Linked DNA regions of Homo sapiens. The protein of the gene in region 1 interacts with the protein of each later gene in a pairwise test. Each region holds a gene or a part of one and is shown in the gene's direction. Other genes may lie near its edges.

Evidence for each region.
Region 2: the proteins of ZBTB42 (region 1) and SNX18 interact in binary tests that used the Homo sapiens proteins (3 or more experiments, as listed by UniProt).
Region 3: the proteins of ZBTB42 (region 1) and CRY2 interact in binary tests that used the Homo sapiens proteins (3 or more experiments, as listed by UniProt).
Region 4: the proteins of ZBTB42 (region 1) and CIDEC interact in binary tests that used the Homo sapiens proteins (3 or more experiments, as listed by UniProt).
Region 5: the proteins of ZBTB42 (region 1) and GUCD1 interact in binary tests that used the Homo sapiens proteins (3 or more experiments, as listed by UniProt).
Region 6: the proteins of ZBTB42 (region 1) and MYLIP interact in binary tests that used the Homo sapiens proteins (3 or more experiments, as listed by UniProt).
Region 7: the proteins of ZBTB42 (region 1) and ZBTB16 interact in binary tests that used the Homo sapiens proteins (3 or more experiments, as listed by UniProt).

What each region holds. Positions count from the first base shown.
Region 1 is NC_000014.9:104,799,608-104,803,900, forward strand, and holds the start of ZBTB42 (zinc finger and BTB domain-containing protein 42), read left to right. Parts: upstream 1-1,493; 5' UTR 1,494-1,590; coding exon 1,591-2,859; 3' UTR 2,860-4,293. UniProt on the Homo sapiens protein: Transcriptional repressor. Specifically binds DNA and probably acts by recruiting chromatin remodeling multiprotein complexes.
Region 2 is NC_000005.10:54,516,573-54,520,558, forward strand, and holds the start of SNX18 (sorting nexin-18), read left to right. Parts: upstream 1-1,186; 5' UTR 1,187-1,380; coding exon 1,381-3,001; coding exon of another isoform or gene 3,002-3,267; exon of another isoform or gene 3,268-3,986.
Region 3 is NC_000011.10:45,867,975-45,871,474, forward strand, and holds part of CRY2 (cryptochrome-2), read left to right. Parts: intron 1-1,531; coding exon 1,532-1,843; intron 1,844-2,078; coding exon 2,079-2,230; intron 2,231-2,355; coding exon 2,356-2,558; intron 2,559-2,867; coding exon 2,868-2,960; intron 2,961-3,500. UniProt on the Homo sapiens protein: Transcriptional repressor which forms a core component of the circadian clock.
Region 4 is NC_000003.12:9,873,754-9,877,253, reverse strand, and holds part of CIDEC (lipid transferase CIDEC), read left to right. Parts: intron 1-34; coding exon 35-188; intron 189-3,500. UniProt on the Homo sapiens protein: Lipid transferase specifically expressed in white adipose tissue, which promotes unilocular lipid droplet formation by mediating lipid droplet fusion. Lipid droplet fusion promotes their enlargement, restricting lipolysis and favoring lipid storage.
Region 5 is NC_000022.11:24,545,139-24,548,638, reverse strand, and holds part of GUCD1 (protein GUCD1), read left to right. Parts: intron 1-565; coding exon 566-731; intron 732-1,633; coding exon 1,634-1,725; intron 1,726-3,500.
Region 6 is NC_000006.12:16,135,586-16,139,085, forward strand, and holds part of MYLIP (E3 ubiquitin-protein ligase MYLIP), read left to right. Parts: intron 1-3,500. UniProt on the Homo sapiens protein: E3 ubiquitin-protein ligase that mediates ubiquitination and subsequent proteasomal degradation of myosin regulatory light chain (MRLC), LDLR, VLDLR and LRP8. Activity depends on E2 enzymes of the UBE2D family.
Region 7 is NC_000011.10:114,241,211-114,244,710, forward strand, and holds part of ZBTB16 (zinc finger and BTB domain-containing protein 16), read left to right. Parts: intron 1-956; coding exon 957-1,127; intron 1,128-3,500. UniProt on the Homo sapiens protein: Acts as a transcriptional repressor. Transcriptional repression may be mediated through recruitment of histone deacetylases to target promoters. May play a role in myeloid maturation and in the development and/or maintenance of other differentiated tissues.

The sequences.
Region 1 (4,293 bases):
GGGCAGCCCAGGTTGTGCCCCTGGGAAAAGGCTCCATCTGCCTGGGAGGGACCCTAACCCCGCCAAACACACTCTCTACTTCTCTGGCGATTCCCTCTCCCACAACCAGGCGTCCCCCTCACATCTTCTCAATGCTTCTTTGCCCTAGAACACTTTCCCCCACTCCTCCCTACCCCCACTCCCATGCCAGCCCCTGTCCGGAGTCTCCTCCTCTTTGAACACGTTCCTGCCTACCCTGGGCTCTGGAGGGCTTCCGACTGTCTCTGTTATGGCGTTTGTCCCCCCGTGCCACCATGTCTGCTGGGAGGTGCCCGTTTTCCGTGCCTCTCTGCGCTGGGTCCCCCATAGACGCTGGGCTGGGGTCTGTGGAGAGGGTGGAAGTCCCCGTTCTGGACTCTAGGATCGACATCCTGCTTGAATGTTTGGAAGAGGGTCCCAGCTGAATTAAATTCAAAAAGAGGCTTTCAAGGAAGAAGGAGGTGTCATCTTTGCAAAATTAACGACCCCCAATCCACGCAACCCCTACGCCATCCCAAGGCCGGCGCCCTGCGAGGTGGCGGGAGGCCAGGGTCCCGGGTTTACCCTCGGGTGACTGCCCAACGCGGGCTGGGATACAAGCGGACCCTCGGAAGGGTTCCTTTTGCAGACTGGCGCAGTAAGGACCCCATGCCGGGAAAGGTTGGGAGGTGGGGGACCCAGGCCAAAGCGCCAAGTATCGCGAGAGACCCCCTGCCCCCGCGCAGTGCCCTAAACCCCCCTCACACCCCAGCGCCCCTGCTGGCTGCGCGCGGGGCCCGGCCGGGTGGGGCGGACAGGGAAGGGGGGGCGAGGGTGACCTCAGCGGTTCCGCCGCTCCGGGAAGTCGCTCGGCCCGCCCCCTCCGGCCCCCGCCCCGAGTTTCGCTCTCTCTGGGGCGGGGCGAGCGGCGGGCGGCGCTGGGCCAGCCAAGTTGGAGCGCGCCCCGCCCGGCGCCCTCGCCGTCCCCGCGCCCTCCCCGCCGGGGCGCGCTGCCCGCAGCTCCACGCGCGCCAGGGCCGCCCTGGGGAGGGCGCGCGCGCGAGCGGCGACCGGAGAGGAGCTCGGGGCGGCGGAGGTGAGCGCTGGGGGTGGGCTCCCGGCTCTGCCCGCCCCGCCCGCCCGCCGGCCCTCTCCCCGCTCCCCGCGGCCGCGCTGCCATAAATGGGGCCGGCGGCGGCGGCATCTGGTGGGCCGGGCGGCAGCTGGAGGCGGCGCGGAGGCGTGGGGCGGGTGGCGGCGCAGCCACCCGGGCGTCGGGGACGCCGCGAGCGGGCGGCCGCCCGGGAGTGAAGTTCAGGAGCGCCCGGGCGGGGACGCGCGCAGGTTTGCGCGGCTCCGGCTCCTGCGCCTGAGTCCCGGGACCCGCCCCCGCGGCGGAGCTGCTACTGTTTACTTTCGATCGAGTTTTTCCTGCTCGGGGCAGGTGCCCGCGGCGGCTCTGGACGGGAGGTTGCGCGCGTCACTCCCGCGCCGCTCTTTCCGCGCTGCCTGCAGCCGGGAAGGGCGCTTCGTGGGCGCCTCCAGGCGCGCTGACGGGCGTCCCGTTTGTGCCCAGGTGATGACGGCGGCGGCATGGAGTTCCCTGAGCACGGCGGACGGCTGCTGGGCCGCCTGAGACAGCAGCGCGAGCTGGGCTTCCTATGCGACTGCACCGTGCTGGTGGGCGACGCGCGCTTCCCGGCCCACCGTGCCGTGCTGGCCGCGTGCAGCGTCTACTTCCATCTCTTCTACAGGGACCGGCCCGCGGGCAGTCGCGACACGGTGCGGCTCAACGGCGACATCGTCACGGCGCCCGCCTTCGGCCGCCTACTGGACTTCATGTACGAGGGCCGCCTGGACCTGCGCAGCCTGCCTGTGGAGGACGTCCTGGCAGCCGCCAGCTACCTGCACATGTATGACATCGTCAAGGTCTGCAAGGGCAGGCTCCAGGAGAAGGATCGAAGTCTGGACCCGGGGAACCCTGCCCCTGGGGCAGAACCTGCTCAGCCACCGTGCCCCTGGCCTGTCTGGACCGCGGACCTCTGCCCAGCTGCCCGAAAGGCCAAGCTCCCCCCGTTTGGGGTCAAGGCTGCCCTCCCTCCTCGAGCATCTGGGCCTCCTCCCTGCCAGGTCCCAGAAGAGTCAGACCAGGCCCTGGACCTGTCGTTGAAGTCTGGCCCAAGGCAGGAGCGGGTCCACCCACCGTGCGTCCTCCAGACACCCCTCTGCAGCCAGAGGCAGCCAGGGGCCCAGCCACTGGTGAAGGACGAACGGGACTCACTGTCCGAACAGGAGGAGAGCAGCAGCTCTAGGAGCCCCCACAGTCCCCCGAAGCCACCTCCTGTTCCTGCAGCCAAGGGCCTGGTGGTGGGCTTGCAGCCGCTGCCCCTCAGCGGAGAGGGCAGCCGGGAGCTGGAGCTTGGTGCAGGGCGACTGGCGAGTGAGGACGAGCTGGGGCCTGGTGGGCCCCTCTGCATCTGCCCGTTGTGCAGCAAGCTGTTTCCCAGCTCCCACGTGCTGCAGCTGCACCTCAGTGCCCACTTCCGTGAGCGAGACAGCACCCGGGCCCGGCTCTCACCCGACGGCGTGGCACCCACCTGCCCGCTCTGTGGGAAGACCTTCTCGTGCACATACACACTGAAGAGGCACGAGCGGACACACTCGGGTGAGAAGCCCTATACGTGTGTGCAGTGTGGCAAAAGTTTTCAGTACTCCCACAACCTGAGCCGGCACACCGTAGTGCACACTCGAGAGAAGCCGCATGCCTGCCGGTGGTGTGAGCGCCGTTTCACGCAGTCCGGGGACCTCTACCGCCACGTCCGCAAGTTTCACTGTGGCCTCGTCAAGTCCCTTCTGGTGTGATGCATCCCTGTGGGTCCTGAGGGTGGGGTGGAAGGGAAGGGATGGGCCCTCCCAGGTGGGACACAGCATGGGGTGTGAAGCCTGACCAGGTGGAGGTCCCTGCTTGGGCCAGATGGCTCCACCCTCCTGGCAGAGAGAATGCTGCCTCTTCCTGGAACTTGGCCTCAGACTCGGTAACTTGGGCAGCCTTCCTCCCACCTTGCCTCTCCTTTCCCCTCACTCTCCAACTCATTCCGGCCCCCAGGCTGTGCCCTGCCTAGGCTGTGACACTATCTTCCTCTCCCGTCCCCTCCAGCCAAGTTCTGAGGGGTGTCCAACCAGCACCTGGCTCTGCCCCCGTTTCTCCGTGTGAGATGGCACATCCATCTCCCGGCCCGGGACTTTCCTGACCACCTCTCTGGCAGGCTTGGGGAGGTCTTCATGAGCCTGGCCCCACGCTAGGTGAATTATTCACATGTCAGAAAAGTTGTTGGTGTGCGTCCCAATGGGGCGCTGGGAGGGAACAGGACACTCCTGGGGAGCGGCAGCAGGAACCCCTGCCAGGAAGGCCTGGGGCACAGTGAGTGCCAGCAGGGGCCATCTGGGCACAGCTGGTGTCTCGGGGTGGGGGGGGGGGTGCAGCCCCAGCAGGGATCCTAAGGCAGCAGGAGTAGAGCCAGCTAGAAGCTGAGTGGCTGTGGCATCATTGTCACTCGGGTGGGACGTGGGTCCATGAGAGCGTGCAATTATGACCACACTGTAACTTTGAGCAGAGAAAGTGGGAATTTGGAACTGGATTCTCTTTAGAGCCAGGAAGAGCCTCCTGAGGCGGCCAGATGTCTGCTGGTGGCCGCCCAGCCACATGCTTGTCTGCCTGAGTGCAGGTCTAGGAAGCCTCTGGGCATCCCCCAGGGTGGGGTCTGGGCCGCTGAGCTGTGTGCTGCTGCTGGGCCACCGTGGGCCTTACCTTGACGGTCACTCTGCCTGCTAGGGGGTTTCCCTGGAGCTGTGGGCATTTCCGTGCACTGACTGAGCAGAGGCAAGGGCTGCCCTGTCCGCCAGGGGCAGGGTTTGCGGGCCTTCCTTTCCCCACGGCGAGGCATGGGTGAAAGTGGCCATGGCGGCAGGGTTAGGGGCAGGTGAGGAGTGGGAGTCGCAGCACCCTAGGGGCCTCCATCCGCAGCCTTGGGAGACTGACGCTCCTCGAACATGAATAGAATGTGGAGACCACAACCCCCACACATGTCGTTGGTTCAGGTCGCCCTGCTTTGCCTGCCTAATGGAGCACATCTTGCTGCCAGAACCTCACTGGCCTCTGGGGGTCGGCAGGTGCAGAGCCACCTGGACGCCTGGAGACCACCTGGGATGTTTCCTCTGTGACTGGGAATGGCCTTGACAACAGAGTCCAGCCAAGTCTACGTTATTTTCTCATCTCCTGACAACACTGGATGTCAT
Region 2 (3,986 bases), on another chromosome or scaffold:
ATAAGAGGGGATTAAGAGAAGAAAAAGCTTTGGGCAAATTATACACTGAAGGAAAGGAAGATAGGAAACAAGGCAACGATAGATTGGAGCTGATTATTTCAGGAAGTGATTTTTGTTCTATTTATCTTAAAAATAATATAAATATAGTGAGACATAGAGACAACAGATGGATGGATGGTCACTGACCTCTTACTAGGAGTGGCAATGTGAACATTGGGACGCTTCCTGGTGCATGTACCCTGCAATTGTTAGTTTAGTACCCCTATTCCCTTTGTGAAAGAGGCCAGGGATTTTGCTTCCCCCAAATAACAGTAACAGCAGCAAAAGCAGCAACAAACCCTTCAAATCTGCTTACCCTGCCAGATATTGTTTCACTTTCCTCATCTGTAAAATAGGGATTACTTTATGATGGAATCCCCACAACAACCCCCGGAGGTAGGTACGATATAAGTGCCTTGTTCCAGGTCATACAGCTAGGTAGTGTCAGAACACAGATTGAAATTCAGAAGCCTGGCTCCGAAGTTTGAGCTCTCATTCACCGCACTACATATATCTATGGGAGGATAGGCGACACATGCATGTAATAAATGTGTGAGCATTTATTGTACTGGAAACTCTCCAGCTCCTCCCTCTCTACATGATCCTTTGCTTCTAATTTTGTCAATCACAGCACCTTCCCTGGCCCTTACTTTGTTCTTGCCAATCTCCTCTCCTTGAGCAGAAGAGGGAAGGGAGCCTGCTCTGTAGGTGAACAGCTCCTCCGCAGAGGCATCCTGTTTTCTTAGTGCAATCACTAATTCGCATTGCAAAATGCTTTATTACATGACTGGGTTGCCATTCTAGGAGCATTCACTGAGCGCTCAGAGTGGGAACGTTTATCAGGCATGCAAATGCTAACTTACTTTCTAGAGAATGTTTAACTTAAAAGCCTAAAGAAATCTCAGATAATTCACTTCGGAGTAGAAACCTCCTTCAGCCGCGCTCACTACGGCGCCCGGCTTCGCGGCACCGGCCACTAGAGGGCAGTGGCCGCCGCAAAGCCGACGCGGGCGGTGGGCTCGGCGGCTCGGCCATCGCTTGCTCTCGCCTGGCAAGGGGCTCTCGGCCGTGGATTAGCGCAGCTGGAGACGTGGGAGGCCGCGGGCCCCGCCCCCGACCGGCGGCGGCTGCGGCGGCCCAGCGCGGCAGTCGGCGCTGCGAAGTGGAGGCGCTGCGAGCGGAGCCGCGCGGAGGGCGCGACCGGCTGGTCCGGGCAGCGTGGGTTTGCCGCCTTCGGGGCTCCAGTCCGCGCGCCAGGGCTCGAGCAGTACCGCGGGCCCCTCAGGTGGGCCTCGGCTCGGGACGCCGGGAGTCGGGACCGCCAGTCGGGGCGCCGGGACCATGGCGCTGCGCGCCCGGGCGCTGTACGACTTCAGGTCGGAGAACCCAGGAGAGATCTCGCTGCGAGAGCACGAGGTGCTGAGCCTGTGCAGCGAGCAGGACATCGAGGGCTGGCTCGAGGGGGTCAACAGCCGCGGCGACCGCGGCCTCTTCCCGGCCTCCTATGTGCAGGTGATCCGCGCCCCCGAGCCTGGCCCGGCGGGAGACGGCGGCCCGGGCGCCCCGGCCCGCTACGCCAATGTGCCCCCCGGGGGCTTCGAGCCCCTGCCTGTCGCGCCCCCCGCCTCCTTCAAGCCGCCGCCTGACGCCTTCCAGGCGCTGCTGCAGCCACAGCAGGCGCCGCCTCCGAGCACCTTCCAGCCGCCCGGCGCGGGCTTCCCGTACGGCGGGGGCGCCCTGCAGCCGTCGCCTCAGCAGCTCTACGGCGGCTACCAGGCCAGCCAAGGCAGCGATGATGACTGGGACGACGAGTGGGACGACAGCTCCACGGTGGCGGACGAGCCGGGCGCTCTGGGCAGCGGAGCATACCCGGACCTCGACGGCTCGTCTTCGGCGGGTGTGGGCGCAGCCGGCCGCTACCGCCTGTCCACGCGCTCCGACCTGTCCCTGGGTTCCCGCGGCGGCTCGGTCCCCCCGCAGCACCACCCGTCGGGGCCCAAGAGCTCGGCCACCGTGAGCCGCAACCTCAATCGCTTCTCCACCTTCGTCAAGTCCGGCGGGGAGGCCTTCGTGCTGGGGGAGGCGTCAGGCTTCGTGAAGGACGGGGACAAGCTGTGCGTGGTGCTGGGGCCCTATGGCCCCGAGTGGCAGGAGAACCCCTACCCGTTCCAGTGCACCATCGACGACCCCACCAAGCAGACCAAGTTCAAGGGCATGAAGAGCTACATCTCCTACAAGCTGGTGCCCACGCACACGCAGGTGCCGGTGCATCGGCGCTACAAGCACTTCGACTGGCTGTACGCGCGCCTGGCGGAGAAGTTCCCGGTCATCTCCGTGCCCCACCTGCCCGAGAAGCAGGCCACCGGCCGCTTCGAGGAGGACTTCATCTCTAAGCGCAGGAAGGGCCTGATCTGGTGGATGAACCACATGGCCAGCCACCCAGTGCTGGCGCAGTGCGACGTCTTCCAGCACTTCCTGACGTGCCCCAGCAGCACCGACGAGAAAGCCTGGAAGCAGGGCAAGAGGAAGGCCGAGAAGGACGAGATGGTGGGCGCCAACTTCTTCCTGACCCTTAGCACGCCCCCCGCCGCTGCCCTTGACCTGCAGGAGGTGGAGAGCAAGATCGACGGCTTCAAGTGCTTCACCAAGAAGATGGACGACAGCGCGCTGCAGCTCAACCACACGGCCAACGAGTTCGCGCGCAAGCAGGTGACCGGCTTCAAAAAGGAGTATCAGAAGGTGGGCCAGTCCTTCCGCGGCCTCAGCCAGGCCTTTGAGCTGGACCAGCAGGCCTTCTCGGTGGGCCTGAACCAGGCTATCGCCTTCACCGGAGATGCCTATGACGCCATTGGCGAGCTCTTCGCGGAGCAGCCCAGGCAGGACCTGGATCCCGTCATGGACCTATTAGCGCTGTATCAGGGGCATCTGGCTAACTTCCCGGACATCATCCACGTTCAGAAAGGTAAAGCCTGGCCCTTAGAGCAGGTGATATGGAGTGTATTGTGCAGGCTGAAAGGGGCGACTTTGACAGCAGTACCACTGTGGGTTTCAGAATCATATTCTACAGGTGAGGAAGCGAGCAGAGACGTGGACGCCTGGGTCTTTTCCCTAGAGTGTAAGTTGGATTGCTCGACAGGCAGCTTCCTCCTCGAGTATCTTGCATTAGGGAATGAGTACTCTTTCTCGAAGGTTCAAAGAGTACCTTTGATGACAGTGCTATCATTTTAGAGTTTGAATAGTTGAGTAATGAGCTGCTCAAATCTGTAATCTTGAGACGAGGGTAGAATTAGAAGGGGACCTAAACCATGTTAGGTATCTGTTTGAACACTGCACTGTCACTTAGTGGTGAGTTTCAAAAAGTGAGGAAATAATGGAGAAGAACGGATGTCTGTAAATAGAAATCTGCTTTCACCCTTCCACACCTCTCAATCTCTGCTTTGGTAGAGGAATTAAGATCAATTCTCTGAGTTTAAGAAATTCCTGCAAAGAATTCTTGCCTGCAACCTTTACGAAGTGAAGTAATTTCAGGAAAAGCGTACTCATTTTGAGTTTGAAATCTATTAATGTACTGAAATTGAGAACGTTGTTTAGGAAAATTGTTTAGGGAAACTACATAGAATGAATATAATCTGAGTATTGGATCTGAGAGCAGCGTTGCTGGTATCCCAGTGAGTTAGCTGTCCAACTATCAGAGTTCATGAGTTATTAATAGTTGTTAGTGTCTCTGACCTTTGCTAAAGCACCAGAATTTGCAAATTAAAAAAATATATAGCAGTAGTGCTTGTCTTAACATTTCTTACTAATGTGCATTCTCATATAATGCCTTGATTGAGAGAATGGGGAGGTGTGGGAGTTAGGGAGGCAGTCTTGCCTGTGAAAGTCCAGTGTAGGGGCGGCTGGGCAGGGAAACCTACTCCTGAGCAGGGAAACCTACTGTCCCTGTTTCC
Region 3 (3,500 bases), on another chromosome or scaffold:
TCATGTAGAGCAGAAGGACAGGCAGAAAAGCAGGCCTCAGGTGTGACCCTAGAGGTGGCATATCCTCTGGCAGCTGGTGGACAGGGGCGAGGTCCCCAGGGTGAGAGGCATGGAGAGGGTGAGGCTGGAGCCAGTCTGAAGTGGAAGAGCATAGCTGCCCGCTCTGGAGCTGTGTCCACAGCATTCAAAAGGGGAGTCCAGGAACAGCAGTTGCCCATCAGTGATGGAGGGAGTGGTGTGGAGGGGCTGCACACAGGGCTGTGCTATACAGACAAGAAGCAAATAAGCCTGTGTTAACTGTCCCCAGAAGGAGAGAGGGCAACACAGTCAGCATTCAGAGGGATCACCTCATCTTGTGCCTATGTTTTTTGTTTCTGTTGTTTATTTAAGAGACAAAGTCTAGCTGTGTTACCCAGGCTAGAGTGTAGTGTGGCCTGATCACAGCTCACTGAAACCTCAGACTCCTGGGCTCAAGCAATCCCTCTGCCTCAGCCTCTCAAGTAGAGCTAATTTTTTACATTCTTTGTAGAGATAGGGTCTTGCTATGTTGCCCAGGCTGGTCTCGAACTCCTGGGCACAAGCAATTGTCCTGCCTTGGCCTCCCACAGTGCTGGGATTACAGCCGTGAGCCACCATGCCTAGCCGTTGTGTCTACATTTGTTTTTTTGTTTGTTTTTGAGACAGGATCTCATTCTGTCACCCAGGCTGGAGTACAGTGGTATGATCACAGCTCACTGCAGCCACAACCTTTCAGGCTCAGGTGATCCTCCTATCTCAGCCTCCCCAGCAGTTGGGACTATAGGTGCATGCCACCACACCTGGCTAATTTTTTGTATTTTTTTGTAGAAACTGGGTTTTTCCATGTTGCCCAGGCTGATCTCAAACTCCTGGGCTCAGGCCATCCACCCACCTCAGCCTCTCAAAGTGACAGATGCTAGCCACCACACCTGGCTGTATCTAGGTTTTTAAATGTTATCTCCTCATCCTTGCCATTATTGAGATTTTGTGGCATGGGATAGCTTTGCCAGTTTGGTGAGTAATCTTGTGACTTTAGGGAAGTCATTATTTGCTTGGAGGTCTGATTTCTTAATTACCTTATGGCCCCAGATCCAGGCTGTGTGTATAATTTATTCAACCAAAATCTAGACTGAGCATTTTTCATGTGTGCTGATAGGAAAATTCCTTTTGACTTTCTAGAAGGTGGAGCCAAACAGGGAACTCTTGAGGACAAGGAACATGACCAGTCTTGGGAAGTTTGAATCCTAGTGCAGAGTCCTGTGGTGAGGCCCCTTCCCACTGCCTGGCCCTCTGTAGCTTTCTTCTTGCTCAGAGCAGTGGCACAGTGCAGGCAGGGCCTGGGTGTTTCACATGCAGGCATGCTGTGCCACTTCTAGGGGATAGTCCCTCCACATCTGGCAGCTGAGCCACTAGGTCTTTGGAGGGCCCAGATTCCTTTGTAGAAGAGACCTGAGAGGCACCATGCTAAGAGCTGGGCGAGTGTTTGTATCCATGTGCCACCCCTACCTCTCAGGTGAAGCGGAACAGCACACCTCCCCTCTCCCTATTTGGGCAACTCCTATGGCGAGAGTTCTTCTACACGGCAGCTACCAACAACCCCAGGTTTGACCGCATGGAGGGGAACCCCATCTGCATCCAGATCCCCTGGGACCGCAATCCTGAGGCCCTGGCCAAGTGGGCTGAGGGCAAGACAGGCTTCCCTTGGATTGATGCCATCATGACCCAACTGAGGCAGGAGGGCTGGATCCACCACCTGGCCCGGCATGCCGTGGCCTGCTTCCTGACCCGCGGGGACCTCTGGGTCAGCTGGGAGAGCGGGGTCCGGGTGAGTGCTCTCTCAACGAAAAGCTGGCCTGTACCCTCTGGTCAGGCCCGTCAAAGGGCAGCCCCCTTCTGGGCTGAGGGATGAGGTGGGATTTCTGGGTCCAGGAGATCCCCTCCAGATCCTCTGTGGCTTGCCTTCAATGGAAGGGTTTTGGCTCCTGGGGGCACTGTGGTGACTTGGGAAAAAACATGGCTGCATGTCCCCAAGGAGGCTGATCATCCCCTCCCCTATCTAGGTATTTGATGAGCTGCTCCTGGATGCAGATTTCAGCGTGAACGCAGGCAGCTGGATGTGGCTGTCCTGCAGTGCTTTCTTCCAGCAGTTCTTCCACTGCTACTGCCCTGTGGGCTTTGGCCGTCGCACGGACCCCAGTGGGGACTACATCAGGTGAGGATACAGACCAGGCTCTCTGGCCTCTGACCACTGTGGCCTCCTACTAGGATGGGATACCCTGGGCCTTTTGAAGGAGGGTCTGGGTATGCTGATGGGTCATCTGGTGTATCTTATTTCAGGCGATACCTGCCCAAATTGAAAGCGTTCCCCTCTCGATACATCTATGAGCCCTGGAATGCCCCAGAGTCAATTCAGAAGGCAGCCAAGTGCATCATTGGTGTGGACTACCCACGGCCCATCGTCAACCATGCCGAGACCAGCCGGCTTAACATTGAACGAATGAAGCAGATTTACCAGCAGCTTTCGCGCTACCGGGGACTCTGTAAGGAGACAAACACCTAGCTCACTGAAGGGAAGGACAGCACCTACAGGCTCAGGGGGCCAGATGGGGATGTCCAGATACTTGCAAAGGGAGACTGAGTGCTGTCTTTCAGGTTGACACCTTCGCTGGGTATGGGACACTGCAGGCTGGGATGAACTGGGCCTTCCTGAGTAGTTGTGGGGCTGTGGGAGGAAATGGAACCTCAGTGTCTTGCTCCTACCCTCCCCACCCCCACTTGCTTCATCCTGCCCTGTAGCCCTCTGCAATCCTGCGAGACGGCACTCTGATTACTCCTCGCCTCTCTCCCAGGTCTACTGGCATCTGTCCCTTCCTGTGTGGAAGACCTCAGTCACCCTGTGGCAGAGCCCAGCTCGAGCCAGGCTGGCAGCATGAGCAGTGCAGGTGAGCAGCAGCAACCAACCTCCTGTGGCCTCCTGTGGCCTGTGCCACCACTTCAGTCATTCAGGACTGAGGCCAGAAGGAGGCCTTGCCCAGTGGAGCTTATATTCCACCTGGGGCAGTCAGATAGTAAAGAAACCAAGTTGGATCATTTCAGATAACAAGTGCTTTGGAGGAAAAGAAAGTTGAGTATCTTGACAGAGGGACTGGGAAAGAAGGATTTCTTCTGTGTCACTTGAGATTGGAGCAGTCAGGGAACACCTCTGTTAAGCAGAGACCCACGTCATGAGCAGGAGCCAGCCCTGCCACACACTGAGAAAATAACATTCCAGACAAAGGGAGTAGCAAGAAAAAGCTCACAAACAGTACCGAGCTTAGTCCATTCAAGGAACCGAAGGGAGGTCAGTGTAGCGGCATGTCCCAGTGAGGAGCTGGAATGAGATGAGGACAAGATACAGCATGAGCAGCATGTGGCAGGCCTGATGTCCGAGACGAGGACTAGGATTCAGCCTTCAGTGCACTGAAGGATGGTCAGTAGGGCAG
Region 4 (3,500 bases), on another chromosome or scaffold:
TGGGTGGCTCACCCTGATGCTTCAACTGCCCCAGGCATGTGTCAGTGCGTACCTCTGTGGTGACCCAGCAGCTGCTGTCGGAGCCCAGCCCCAAGGCCCCCAGGGCCCGGCCCTGCCGCGTAAGCACGGCGGATCGAAGCGTGAGGAAGGGCATCATGGCTTACAGTCTTGAGGACCTCCTCCTCAAGGTGAGAGCACCTGCGCGTTGCACAGCCCAGCTGTGAGCTGGGATTCAGCAGAGATGGAGGTCAGGGCTTAGAAGGTGGCACAGTTTCCTTTCTGATACCTACCAGCGCCTACAGATGGTAATGCCCACCTGGAGAGCTGTCCAACTAATTAGCAATGACTGATGTCTGTTTGGTAACAGGAGGGGGGCAGTACGTTACCATCCTACACTATCAGTAGGTCAGTGGTATTTTCAGGGCACATTTTTCTTGCTGGAAAATCTCATGCTTCCCACTTCCATTAGTTTTTTTTTTTTTTTTTTTTTTTTTTTGAGACGAAGTCTCACTCTTGTCATCCAGGCTGGAGTGCAATGGCGCGATCTTGGCTCACTGCAACCTCTGCCTCCCAGAATCAAGCGATTCTCCTGCCTCAGCCTCCTGAGTAGCTGGGACTACAGGCACACACCACCACACCCAGCTAATTTTTTGTACTTTAGTAGAGACAGGGTTTCACTGTGTTGCCCAGGCTGGTCTCGAACTCCTGAGCTCAGGCAATCCACCCACCTTGGCCTCCCAAAGTGTTGGGATTACAGGTGTGAGCTACCACACCCAGCCCAAGATGGAGTCTTGCTGTGTCACCCAAGTTGTAGTGCAGTGGCATGATCTCAGCTCACTGAAGTCTCCGCCTCCCAGGTTCAAGTGATTCTCATGCCTCAGCCTCCCAAGAAGCTGGGACTACAGGCATGCACCACCACGCCCAGTTAATTTTTGTATTTTTAGTAAAGATGGGGTTTTGTCATGTTGGCCAGGCTGGTCTCAAACTCCCGACCTCAGGTAATCCACCCACCTCTGCCTCCCAAAGTGCTGGGATTATAGGCGTCAGCCACCATGCCTGTCCTCACTGATCATCTCTATAGGGGTGGGACCCTCTCATCTGCAATCCCAGGTGCCTGGTACAGGTCAAATGTTTGGATTAGGCTTCCAATTATTAGGCTCTATTTAACATACAGAAATCAATCATAGCTAACCTCTTTATTCTAAGTTTCCTCCCCTATTTCTGTGTATTAGTTCTGTTCTTCCGGAGAGCCAATTTCCCCTCCTTTGTAAGGCTTCTGGCTGCGCAGACTACATTTCTTGTGCTTTCAATCAAAAGGACCTGTTCATACTCTAACCTGGACTTGGTGCTGTTTTTTTGCCCTGAGGTCTGGGCACCCCCTGCATCAAAGTGTCCTTGTTATATGTGGCTTCCCCTGGAGGAAGCAATTGCAAACTAACAAAAGTTACACAGTACAAATACAATACAAAACTTTGCCTGAATCATTTGAGAGTAAGTTGCCAACTTGCTGCCTATTACTCTTGGATACTTCAATGTGCATTTTCTACAAACAAGGATATTCTCCTTTCTACAAACAAGGATAGCCATCATACAACTATTACAATCAGGAAACAGTATTACATTACTGTAATTGAATCCTGAAACTCAAGCATTGCCAGCTGTCCCAATAATATCCTTTATAGTGAAAGGATCCAGGTCAGGATCAAGTGTTTATTTAATTGTATGTCTCTTTAGTTTCCTTCAGTATGGAACAGTTTTTCAGTGTTTCCTTGACTTTCATGGCCTTGACCATTTTGAAGATTATGAGCCAGCTATTTTTGTTTACTGTCCCTTGGTTTGGAACTATGCATTTCTTTTTTCTTTTTTTTTTTTTTTTTGAGACAGAGTCTCGCTTTGTCGCCCACGCTGGAGTGCAGTGGTGCTATCTCGGCTCACTGCAAGCTCTGCCTCCCGGCTTCCCACCATTCTCCTGCCTCAGCCTCCTGAGTAGCTGGGACTACGGGCGCCCGCCACCGCGCCCAGCTAATTTTTTTTGTATTTTTGGTAGAGACGGGGTTTCACCGTGTTAGCCAGGATGGCCTCAATCTCCTGACCTCGTGATCTGCCTGCCTCGACCTCCCAAAGTGCTGGGATTACAGGTGTGAGCCACCACACCTGGCCCTATCCATTTCTTTAATTCAGGTTTATATCTTTGGCAGGAATATGATAAAAATAAGTTGCAGGCCAGGCATAGTGGCTCATGCTTGTAATCCTAACACTTTGGGAGGCCGAGGCAGGAGGAGTCCTTGAGCCCAGGAGTTCAAGACCAGCCTGGGCAACATGGTGAGACCCCGTCTATACAAAAATAATACAGGAATTAGCTGGACATGGTGGTGTGCACCTGTAGTCCCAGTTACTCAGGAGGCTGAGGCAGGATGATCACTTGAGCCTAGGAATTTGAGGCTCCAGTGAACTGTGAATGCACCACTGCACTGCAGCCTGTGTGACAGAGCGAGACCCTGTTTAAAAAAAATTTTAAAAAGATTGTCACTGCAAAATTATATGCAATTTTTGTCACCTTACTGTTTTGATTATTTGAATAAAGTGGTAGGTACAGTCAAGCTTCTCTATGTAACATTTTCCCCTCTGTTATTTATTTTCTAGGTCAGTACTTTGTACTAAGTAAACATTGAATTCTGCATCTGTCACTGTATTCACTTATTATTATTATTATTATTATTATTATTATTATTATTTTAGAGAAAGGGTCTCGCTCCATTGCCCCGGCTAGAATGCAGTGATGTGATGATGGCTCACTGCAGCCTCAAACTCCTAGGTTCAAGTGATCCTGCCACCTCAGCCTCCCGACTCGCTAGGACTATAGGTACACGATCTCACACCTAATTTTTAATTTTTTTTTAAATAGAGAGGGGGTCTAGCTATGTTTCCTAGCCTGGTCTCAAACTCCTGGCCTCAAGTGATCCTCCCACCTCGGCCTCCCAAAGTGCTGGGATTACAGGCATGAGCCACTGCATCTGGCCTATTTATTTATTTATTTATTTGTTTCAAAAGGGACACAGGTATTTCTATTTTAATAGCATACATGAATGGCAACAGATTATTTATTGATGCTCAAGTTGTCCCAGACTTCAACATCTTTTTATCATGTCCCCAGCATTCTTTGCATGCTTTCTTTCTGGTGCAACAAGGTATTACAGGCTCATCTTGTATTTTCCCTGCCCTAATTCTTGGCCATTTTTTTCTAAGGTCTGTTTCATTTTAGTGGAGAATGGTATTCAGAAACCGAGACCAGGGAGCTAGATATGTTCATTGCTATTGGTGTGTTGCTGATCCCAGGCCCTTACTGAAAGAGTTTTAAGTAGCAAGATATGTTCCTTAGTGAATCCAAGCAAGAAAAGTGACGTGATAATGCCATCATTCCAAGATAACTAATGATGTGGTTGTAAATGTCCTGAGGAGCCTATTCTTATTATGGACCATGTAATCTGCCAGGTGATTTG
Region 5 (3,500 bases), on another chromosome or scaffold:
AGGAGGCCCTCCACTCCCCAGTTTCTGGCTCCTGGGAGAATGGGGTGCTGACCGTTAAGCTGAGGCTGTGTGAATATCACAGAAACCTGGACAGTGAGAGCCAAGAGGGACTGTAGCCGTCACCTTGTACAAGAGTTTTTCATTTGGCTTCCTGGAACCACAGGGCAGCTGCATCTTCATCTGTTTTACATCCTGGGAATCTCAGCAAGAGAAAATTCAACAAAAGCGTTCTTTGCCTAAAACTTTGAAAACCACTGATGTGATCAGGGACCTTATTTTAGAGATGAAGCTAAAGAGGCCAGAGAAGACAATGACTTGCTCAAGGTCACAGCCCACAAGACACAATAGATTTGAGAAGCAGAGTCCAGGCCTGCAACTCTGGAGCCAGGACGGTGCCCCAAGCAGCCTGGGCAGTGTGTGGGCAGGACCTAGGGTCTCATGATGAAGGAGGGAGACTTCTGGGGAATGGGACCTGTGACGGGGCTCTTGGGCCAGTGGGTGGAGGGTGACTCAGACCAGTTGACCCTCAAGACCAAGCTGAGCTCCCCAGCTCGTCTACCTGCAGGTACCTGGGCCAGCTGGACGACAGTGAGTTTGAGAGAGCCCTGCAGAAGCTGCAGCTGACCAGGAGCATCTGGACCATCGACCTGGCCTACCTGATGCACCACTTTGGCGTGAGGCACCGCTTCTGTACCCAGACCCTGGGTGTCGACAAGGGCTACAAGAACCAGGTGAGCGACCAGCCACCAGGCCTTCCCATGTGGGGCCACACAGAGGTATAAGGCCACCTGGTTCCAGTAGTTGGAAGAGGGAACAGTCAAGGGCTAGACACCCAGGTAGATACCCAGGTGTGCAGAGACCAGGGAGCAGCAGCAGAGAGGCTATAGGCAGGATTTGGGAGCCAGTCAGAGCAGGTGCCCTTGCAGTCGGGCCTGCCCAGAGGATCTGAGTACTGAGTCCTGGCTCCTGTCCACCTGCCTTCTACAGCCCTCAGAATGTGCAGAGGCCACTTCCTACGTTCTTTCCTACTGTCCTCAGCACAAGGCAGGCCCAGGGCCTCTGAGAACATCACTGACCTCATCCGGCCATCATTTGCACATTTTTTTACTTTTCACCAGGAGAGCCAGCTTTTAAGCTATATAATTGGTAGTCTAGAAGAAAACCAAAATACCATCTTTTCTTTTTTTTGCCTTTTGAAAAATAATGCCAACATAGCCATGCCAGCAAAGTGTGTTCCGTGGACGACACCTAGCTAAGCCAAGCTGTAGCTGAGCTGTCCCAGGTGGTTCAGCCTCATCCCCCTTGCTTATTCGCTACGGGCTCCTGCTCATGCCTGCCAGAGTGTACAAGCCCAAGGGTGATCGATCCTCCCCAGAGAGCTGACCTGAGCCCAGCTGCCCACCCCTCTCTCAAGCATCATCCTCATGCCTCTGTGTGGTCCTGCTTCCCTGCTCCTGCTTAGGACAGACAGCTTTCTGATCTGGCTTGCTGCATGTACCGTCTGCCCTGGCAGGTGGGGCTCCTCTGCCCTCCTGCTGTCTCTGCCTCTGTAACACGCTCTTTATTTCCTTCATCTAAATGGAGTGAAGGCAGCCTGGGTGGTGGCCACTCCATCCCCCTCTTCTCTGTTCAGTCCTTCTACAGGAAGCACTTTGACACAGAAGAGACCCGGGTGAATCAGCTGTTTGCACAAGCAAAGGCCTGCAAGGTGCTGGTGGAGAAATGGTGAGCCCCCCAACTTTCCTACCTGCCCTTCCTCTCATGCCTGCTCACCCACAGATCTGCAGTGGGGAGGCCTCGGGATGGTGTTCAGGAAAGGCTAGGACTCTGGAGCCAGGCAGAACTGGCTACCCGGGTGGCTGTGGGCACTGACTTGCCCCCTTGAGCCTTGGTTTATGGAGCTCACTGGGGCTACATGACCCAGGCTCTGACCAGGGGTGGATCCTGAGCAGGTGCTGGAGGGATAGGTGAGTGAGAGAGATTGCACCCAGCCCTTGGGCTACTTGCAGAAAGACAGCATGGGACAGAACACAAGGCCCCTAATGAAAGGGCGATGGCCTAAGAGGAATGTGCTGGTGCAGTGATTGACAAGGGATGGGGAACAGGGAGGACCCAGTGTGTAAGGGCTGCTGTGACCTTACAAGGGCCTCCTCTTCTCATCTGTATGCATTGGGGCTGGATTCAGGAAGACTCTGGGTGCAGTTTGCCCAGATGTGGGTCACATTCTTTTCTGGGCTACGTGGGAGTGGGGCTCAGACCTGCTGCCTCTAGGTCCTGGACAGGCTCTTCTCAGATTTTCCCTTTCTTTGCGGATTTATATTTTCATTATTGACGTAGTATAATCACATGATAGGTGATTTAGAAAATGGGGGTTTGGGGGCCGGGCGCGGTGGCTCACGCCTGTAATCCCAGCACTTTGGGAGGCTGAGGTGGGCGGATCACGAGGTCAGGAGATCGAGACCATCCTGGCTAACACGGTGAAACCTTGTCTCTACTAAAAATACAAAAAATTAGTCGGGCGTGGTGGCAGGCGCCTGTAGTCCCAGCTACTCGGGAGGCTGAGGCAGGAGAATGGCCTGAACCCAGGAGGCGGAGCTTGCAGTGAGCCGAGATAGTGCCACTGCACTCCGGCCTGGGGGACAGAGCGAGACTCTGTCTGAATCTGCCCTCAAGGAAACAGAAAGGCAAATCCAGGATGTGGGACATTTTCCAAGAGTACTGCCCCGGGCTTTAAAAATCAACAAAACAGGCCGGGCACGGTGGCTCACGCTTGTAATCCCAGCACTTTGGGAGGCCGAGGCGGGCGGATCACGAGGTTAGGAGATCGAGATCATGGTGAAACCCCGTCTCTACTAAAAATACAAAAAATTAGCTGGGCGCAGTGGCGGGTGCCTGTAGTCCCAGCTACTCGGGAGGCTGAGGCAGGAGAATGGCATGAACCCAGGAGGCGGAGCTTGCAGTGAGCCGAGATCGCGCCACTGCACTCCAGCCTGGGCAACAGAGACAGACTCTGTCTCAAAAAAAAAAAGAATATAGTGGGGTGGGATCTCCATTCATACTATGACCACATGGGCACATGTTGGAAGGAAAGGCAGCAAATGTTTATTTAGCAGCCCTCAACAGGTGCTGTCTCCTTGAGTGGGAAAGCTGTTGCTATCTCTGCTTCTCGGGGGAGGAAACTGAGGAGGAGAGAGACACCCAAGGTCACCCCCAGCATCTTGGCCATGCCATGATCTGAACCCATGCTTGTTATTCCTTGAAGCCTGTAGTTTTTCCTTCCAGCCAAGCCCCTGCTTTTTCCCTATAGCTGAAATCCCACTCCTGTGCACTGCCACTGGGAACTCAGCCAGCTATTTTGTTTCAAAGACCAAATGGAAAAATGGCATGTTTCCTTGGCCAAGGCAGCAATCCAAACTGCCACGTGACTCAGCTGTGGCTGAAGCTGGGTCAGGCCACATGGTACTGATGCTGCCACTCCTAAGGAAGGCCCCAAGTGGGTG
Region 6 (3,500 bases), on another chromosome or scaffold:
GGTTCACGTTAGATATGGCTAGTTACTTGAATCCTTGACCCTAAGGGATTTTTACTAGTATTACTTCCTTAACTTATGAAAATTTTCAAACAGACAGGAAAATTGGAGATTTTTTACAGGGAACACCTATGTATATATACACACATTATATGTGTGTGTATACATATATCTATATATATATATATATATATATGTATGCTATATATTCTATATAGTGTATATATACAGTATATATTCTATATAGTGTACATGTACACTATATATTCTACTCTATAGTATGTATACTAAGTATATACTATATATACTAAATTCTAATATTAATAGTTTACTCTACATGCTTTATTACATATTCATCCATTTATCAGTCCTCTATCCACCCATCAATCTGTCTTATTTTTAGATGCATTTCAAAATAAGTTGTATATAAGTATGTTTCCCCGTAAATACTTCAGCATGCATAACATTAACTAGAACTCAATGTTTGCAGTTTTTTCTTTTGATGTAAAATTTACATAAATCCTAATTATACCATTTAATGATTTTTGACAAACAGCTGTGCTTGTTTAAATAAAACTGCTATCAAAATTTAGAACATTATCATCACTCCAGAAAGTTCCCTGAAGCCCTTCTGCAGTCAACCCCTCCCCTTCTTTCCCACCCCCACCCACCGCACACCACACCTCTGTCATGTGTTCTTCTACCAGAGATGAGCTATGCCTGTGCGGCCTTATCTATATGGAATCTTGTGGTATGCACTCTTTGATATCTGGCTTCTTTTGTTCATCACAGATTTTTTGAGATCCATCCATATTGTCCTATATATCAGTGGTTGGTTCTTTTATATTGCTGGATAGTATTCCATTGAATGAATCTAGTGTTTGTTTATCCGTACTCCTAATAATGAACACCTGTTTTCCAGCTATTATGAATAAAGCTGCCATAAACATTCTAGTATGTACCTTTTTTTTGTAGACACATATTTTCATTTCTCTTGAATAAATAAATACCTAAGAGTGGAATAGCTGGGTCATGGAGTAAGTAATCATTTCATTTTATAACTAACTGCCGGACCTTTTCCCAAAGCTATTTGGCAACTGTGCTATTCTGTACTCCCAGCAAGAATGTAAGAGTCTAGTTCCTCCACATCCCTGCCAGCTTTCTGGTGGGTGTGTAGTGGTAGAGTGTTGTGGTTTTAATTTGCATTTCTCTGACAATTCATATTAAACACTTGTTCATGTGTTTATTGGCCTTTCATGTATCTTTTTCAAAGTGTCCAAGTCATTTACTCATTTTTGTTGTTTGCTTTTATTTTTGAGTTGTACAAATTCTTCATGTACCCTAGATACCAGTCCTTTGTCAGATACATGTTTTGTAAATGTATTTCCTCCTGTGGCTTACCTGTTTTTCTGATGCCTTTTATGAGTAGAAGTTTTTAATTTTGGTGAAGCCTAATTTATCCACTTTCTTCTTTTGTGGTTTTTGCTATGTCCTGAGAAACCTTTGCTACCTGGAAGTCATGAAGATACTCTTAAGTTTTGTTTCTAAAGCGTTACGGTTTTAGCTTTTACATTTAGACCCGTGATCCATCTTGAACTGATTTGTGTTTTACTGAAATTAAAGATACAAAACAGAAAACTCTCATAGCAATTCTGTTGTGATTTGATAGCTTTTAAATATAACTTGGCAGTCAAAGTTTGTTTTAAAATAAACTGTGGTTAAGTGACTCATTGGACTGAGGCAGGCTGGCTGATGATCACCGTGGGTTCTGACAAGGTGAGAGCAGAACCAGCCATTACTCACTATGGCTAGAGTCAGTCATGGCTCTCCAGGAGAAATACAATTCAATTATTGGTAATTGAGAATTTGAAAAAAATAGCTGCTTAGCTGTTTTAAAGATGTAGGTTAGTTCTTAAATTTTGAGTTCAATAATGAATCTGGATATAGTTATTTTACATTTGTCATTAAAAGCTCTTAAAAATGGTGTAACTGGTGAGGTAACTGGAGGGCAGTAACTGAGAGGAACCCTCTATGATGAGCAGATGAACAACTTCCAATTGGTTTGCAGGAAGTTCTGCTTTGATTCCTAGATAATTGCTTTATGAGACAAGCCTGTGTTTAGAGGAAAGTTCTCTGATTACAACTCTTAAAAGATAAATGATCTAACTTCATTCCTTAACATTGTAAGAAGGAATTAATTTTTAAAAGAGAGAAAATTTGAAGTACTTTGAAAGAAAAATATAGTAAGAATATGTGATTCATTTTTAAAATTAAAATTTGGCATATCCTTATATTCACTCCATTAAAAAAAAAATCTATAATGCTCAGTAAATGTTAATTCATCTGTGCCCACGATGCCAGGACATGAGTTTAGCCAGAATGTTACGCCTTGGGCCCCAAAATGTGATCCATATATTGAAAATATCAGTTTTCTTAGTAACTGGGTAAAACTTAAAGAAGAGTCATGAATTAGAAGGTATAACCCGAAGAATGTTTAAAAGGTGCAGTTTGAGCTTATTTATGCTCATAGGATGTATTCATGGACATTTCCTTAAGACAGAGAAAACAGTTTTTTTCCAAAGGCTTTCTTTCTGTTTGTGATTCTAGGATGTAGCCTCTATTGAATTGAATATGTCATCTACTTTTGATCTTTAGTGCAAAAGCATTCACTGCAGGCATAACTTATTTGACCACATCTGCTTGTTTTGATATTATTGGTAACATTTTGCCTACTTTACAAAAAAAAAAAGGAGGGGGCAAAACCCAGGAGCCAGATAGTTACAATCCAGATGGTTTGAGGGGAAAATACTAAGAGAAAATACTTGATTCAAAACCACCCATAAATATTGAGCCATCACTGAAGTTCTTGTTGGAAACATGTCTCTGAGCTCTGCTATCCTCTGTCTTGGAAAGAGCCTATTAGAGTGCTGATCTTTGCTACTAGTACTCTGTTGTACTGTTCTCCTGGAGAGCATAAACTTGTCACCCAAAAGCTAGATTGTGGCTGGAGTTATTTTGATGGGATATGTCCCTTTATTGTAAAAGGCTGTAAGTCCATCTAAAAAGGAACTCTCAGACATGTTTACCCTAAAACCCCAGCTTAGGGCTGGGCACAGAGGCGGTGCAAGACAAATATTTATTGGCTTGAAATGAAAAGGTTGCTTTATAGCCATGAAACTGCAAAATGCAGGAAGGGACTATCAGAAAGCTGATGTTGACAGTAAGGAGAAGGATTTTTCATGCTTACCAGGCATCCTCTGCACTCCAGGCTAGAATGTGGAGTATGTCGAAAAGGTCAATCATCGCCCTTGCTAGATCTTTTCTTAAATTCTGGCCCATATGCTGAGAAGGATCAGTGGTGCTCTCAGGCTGCCTGCCACCTGTTTACATTCTGTTACTGCTTCTTTGCCTTTGATTTTGGCCACTGTCTCTCCGGAAGTGTAGGCATGGATAGGTTGCAAAAAGACACGGAATTGATTCAAAACTCTTCTTACTATCTAATA
Region 7 (3,500 bases), on another chromosome or scaffold:
CTTTAGTGAGTGGAGAAGTAGTTAAAAAAAAAAAACAAAACAGGATCTGTAGCTAGTCTTGGGAAAGCATTAAAATCTAGGGTGTGTGAGTGTGAACCCCAGCCCTGCCACTTACGAACTCTATGGCAGGAGTCCCCAACCCCCGGGCCATGGTCTGTGAGGAGCTGGGCTGCACAGCAGGAGGCGAGCGAGTGAAACTGAGCTCCGCCTCCTGTCATATTAGTGGCGACATTAGATTCTCACAGGAGCATGAACCCTATTGGGAACTGTGCATTCAAGGGATCCAGGCTGCACACTCCTTATGAGAGTCTAATGATAAATGTAATGTGCTTGAATCATCCCAAAGCCATCCCCCAACCATACGTGGAAAAATTGCCTTCCATGAAACCAGTCCCTTGTGCCAAAAATGTTGGGGACCACTGCTCTGTGGGATTTTGGCCAAAGTACTTAATCTCTCTGTGCCTCAGTCTCCTTGTCTAAGGGATGAGGATAACAGAGGCTAGCTTTTTGAGTTTTGGATTTATATTAGTTATGTTAGAACAATGGCTGGCCCATAGTATCTTTGTTATTGTTTTTTCTCGCAGGGTCTACCTTGCCTCCCCCACTTTTTGCCCTGTACTCTGTGAAGTCCATCTGGTATATGCTGTCTTAGTACCTTGCCGCCTTTTACATACCACCCGACACAGTTGCCCACTACCCTTGCTGCTGCGATGTATTTGATCAATGTCTATCCTTTAGCTTTAGCTTCCAGAGCTCGGGAACGACGTCGATTTTGCCCATCACTGGGGCCACATACTGGGTGCTCAGTGTTGCATAGCCTGGGCCCACTCTGGATTTGCCCCTGAGCATGGGGATTTGGAGGTGTGAGTCCCGACACTGGCTCTCACTCCAGATGGGTAAAGAATGCACCTTGTATTCCCACCTTTCTGAGGCACCCCCTCTCCTGTCTCCCACAGGCACTGACATGGCCGTCTTCTGTCTGCTGTGTGGGAAGCGCTTCCAGGCGCAGAGCGCACTGCAGCAGCACATGGAGGTCCACGCGGGCGTGCGCAGCTACATCTGCAGTGAGTGCAACCGCACCTTCCCCAGCCACACGGCTCTCAAACGCCACCTGCGCTCACATACAGGTAGGTCAGTCCAGCTGATGGGTGGATCTGGGTCTCTGGGAGCCAGCGTCTATATTTACCTCCAAGGACGTAAAGTGGAGGTGGTGGGCTGAGTCAGCCTTCAGTCCTTCTGCTCAAGGCTTGGACGTGCAGAGGCTGCCCGTCGTGCAGGTAAATGTGGACAGTTCTCCCAGTCCCCTCCTGTGGACCGTCGGTTCAAAGTCTTTCCGTGTTCAACACAGGATGCTCATTAAAAAGGCAGGCTCTTGGGTCCCACTCTCAGAACCTTTTATTCCATGGGTCCAGGGTGGGGTCCCAGATTCAGCATTATTAATATGTATTCCCAAGGGATTCTCATGTAGGTAGACCCAAAATGAATTTTGAGAAAAACTGACCTGCTGGGTCTCTTAACATTGTCTGCCCTGCCTCCCACCACTCTTGATGCCCCGCCGCTCTATCCATACACATTTCTGAAGTCAGCTTCGGGCTTCTGAGGGCAAGTTGAAGCAGTGATCCTACTTTCCCCACAGTAACAAAGGCCTGTACTTGGACCTTAACCCTGTTTAGGGAAGACAAGGAGGGCATTTAAACGATGAGCAATGAAATATCACTGCTCAGCCAGTTCCAGGTGATGGGACAAGGGAGGGGGTACAAGGTAAGGAGGCTGGGCCAGGTGCTGAGGGGCTGGCCATTCCCTGCCACCAGCCTCTAGGGCTTGAGGGATGGGGACACTTGGTCCCTGATGGCCAAGAGGCATTTGCTTTCCTGCAGCAGCTCCCAGTTTTCCCTAACAGGGGAGTGGATGGCTTAAATTCCTTATTTTCTCTATGACAAAACTGGGGCTCTGCTGAAACTACCTGGTTAAAGGAATGCCCATTTCTGAGTCTGCCTTTGTGTGCTGTGTTTGTAGGGAGGGTTGGGGTCAGGTCTCTATCTGGGTATATAACAGAGCGTATACTTGTAAAAACCTCTGCATGCCACGTAAAGGAACAGTAGGCCCTCTCCTCATTTTGAGAGTCTTGTCACAGCTCAGAGATTGAGTATGCAGACCAGGTCTTGCATGGGTGGCAGGCTCTGCTAAATAAGGGAAGAGCTTTACTTCTCATGGACTGAGCTGGCCTGGCCAGCCAGCAGCAGGTATCCTCATTAAGGAGCCTTCCTGGCTGTCACTTCTGGATGCCATTTTGTTCAGGGGAGCACATTGTCTTAGCATCACCAGATTTGCACAGAACTACTTAAAATTTCTGGGACAGGACGGAGGTAGGGCCCAGAGGGGTGGGCTCAATAAAAAGGGCCCAGGAGAGTGGGATGTTGACAAGGACTTTCTCTACAGCGATTGCGTAAGCATTTCCCCTGCAGCTATATGCACCTTCCTATGAACGCCTCCCTCAACAGTTCCCCAGGTTCATTCGGTCTTATGAAAGATGGCTAGATACCTTTCAGCCACTTCTGAGCATGCCACTGGGTCCAATCAGTTGGCTTCATGTGACTTGAATGATCTCAGTCCTGCTAAATCCACCCAGGATGTGCCCTGCTCTGACCATGCCACCTTCTCAGAGCTCAGATATGAAAATGTCACATGCTCTTGTGTCAGTCATGGCTCAGATCCACGGGGAGGGGCTGTTTCCAGAGTTAGGGAGAAGCCCTTGCTTATTCTAGGAAACACGGAGCATGTGTGCTGCCTATGCACACACAGAGAAACACCCATCAATTTTCACACCAGCGAGGCACTGCGCACACAAGCCATATACAGGCTGTGCACACCCCACACACAATGCCTCATTAATATTCCGTTGTTCTTGGCCCATTTGCTGCTGGGGCCGGGTGTTTAGCATCAGCAGCTGTGTTTGGTAGGTTAGTCCAGCCGTGCTCTTGGCATTGATGGATCCCTGATTCACACGGCTCATCATATAATAAACTCTCAGCTGTGCTGAAGGGAGGGGCTGGAAGGGAGGGGCCTGAGGAGCCAGCAGGATGGGGCTGGGGTGGGGAGGACGACAGACACTGGGCTTGGCCAGTGCCAGAGAAAGCACCAAGTAAGGACAGATTGGGGGGGGCGGGGTCACAGGTGCACTGGGCAGGCTGGAGGGGGCTCTAATTAGTCTCGTTTGTCCTGCACTTAATGTCAAGCTCATTAAAGAGGCTACAGAGTTAATCAACATACCACAAATTGGATTTTGAGTTCTGCAGCCAGTTTTGTGTACATTATGGCCACACTGACACAATCAGCTCTCAGGGTGAAGATTTCACGCCAGGTGCACACCGTGCTTCCAAATCGGGATGGGGATACGTGTGTGTTGGTGACTTTTTCTTTCTTTTTTTTTTGTTGTTGTTTGTTTTTCCTTCTAAGTTCTTTTTATTCTTTTCCCTGGGCAGACTCAAGAATTTCCTATT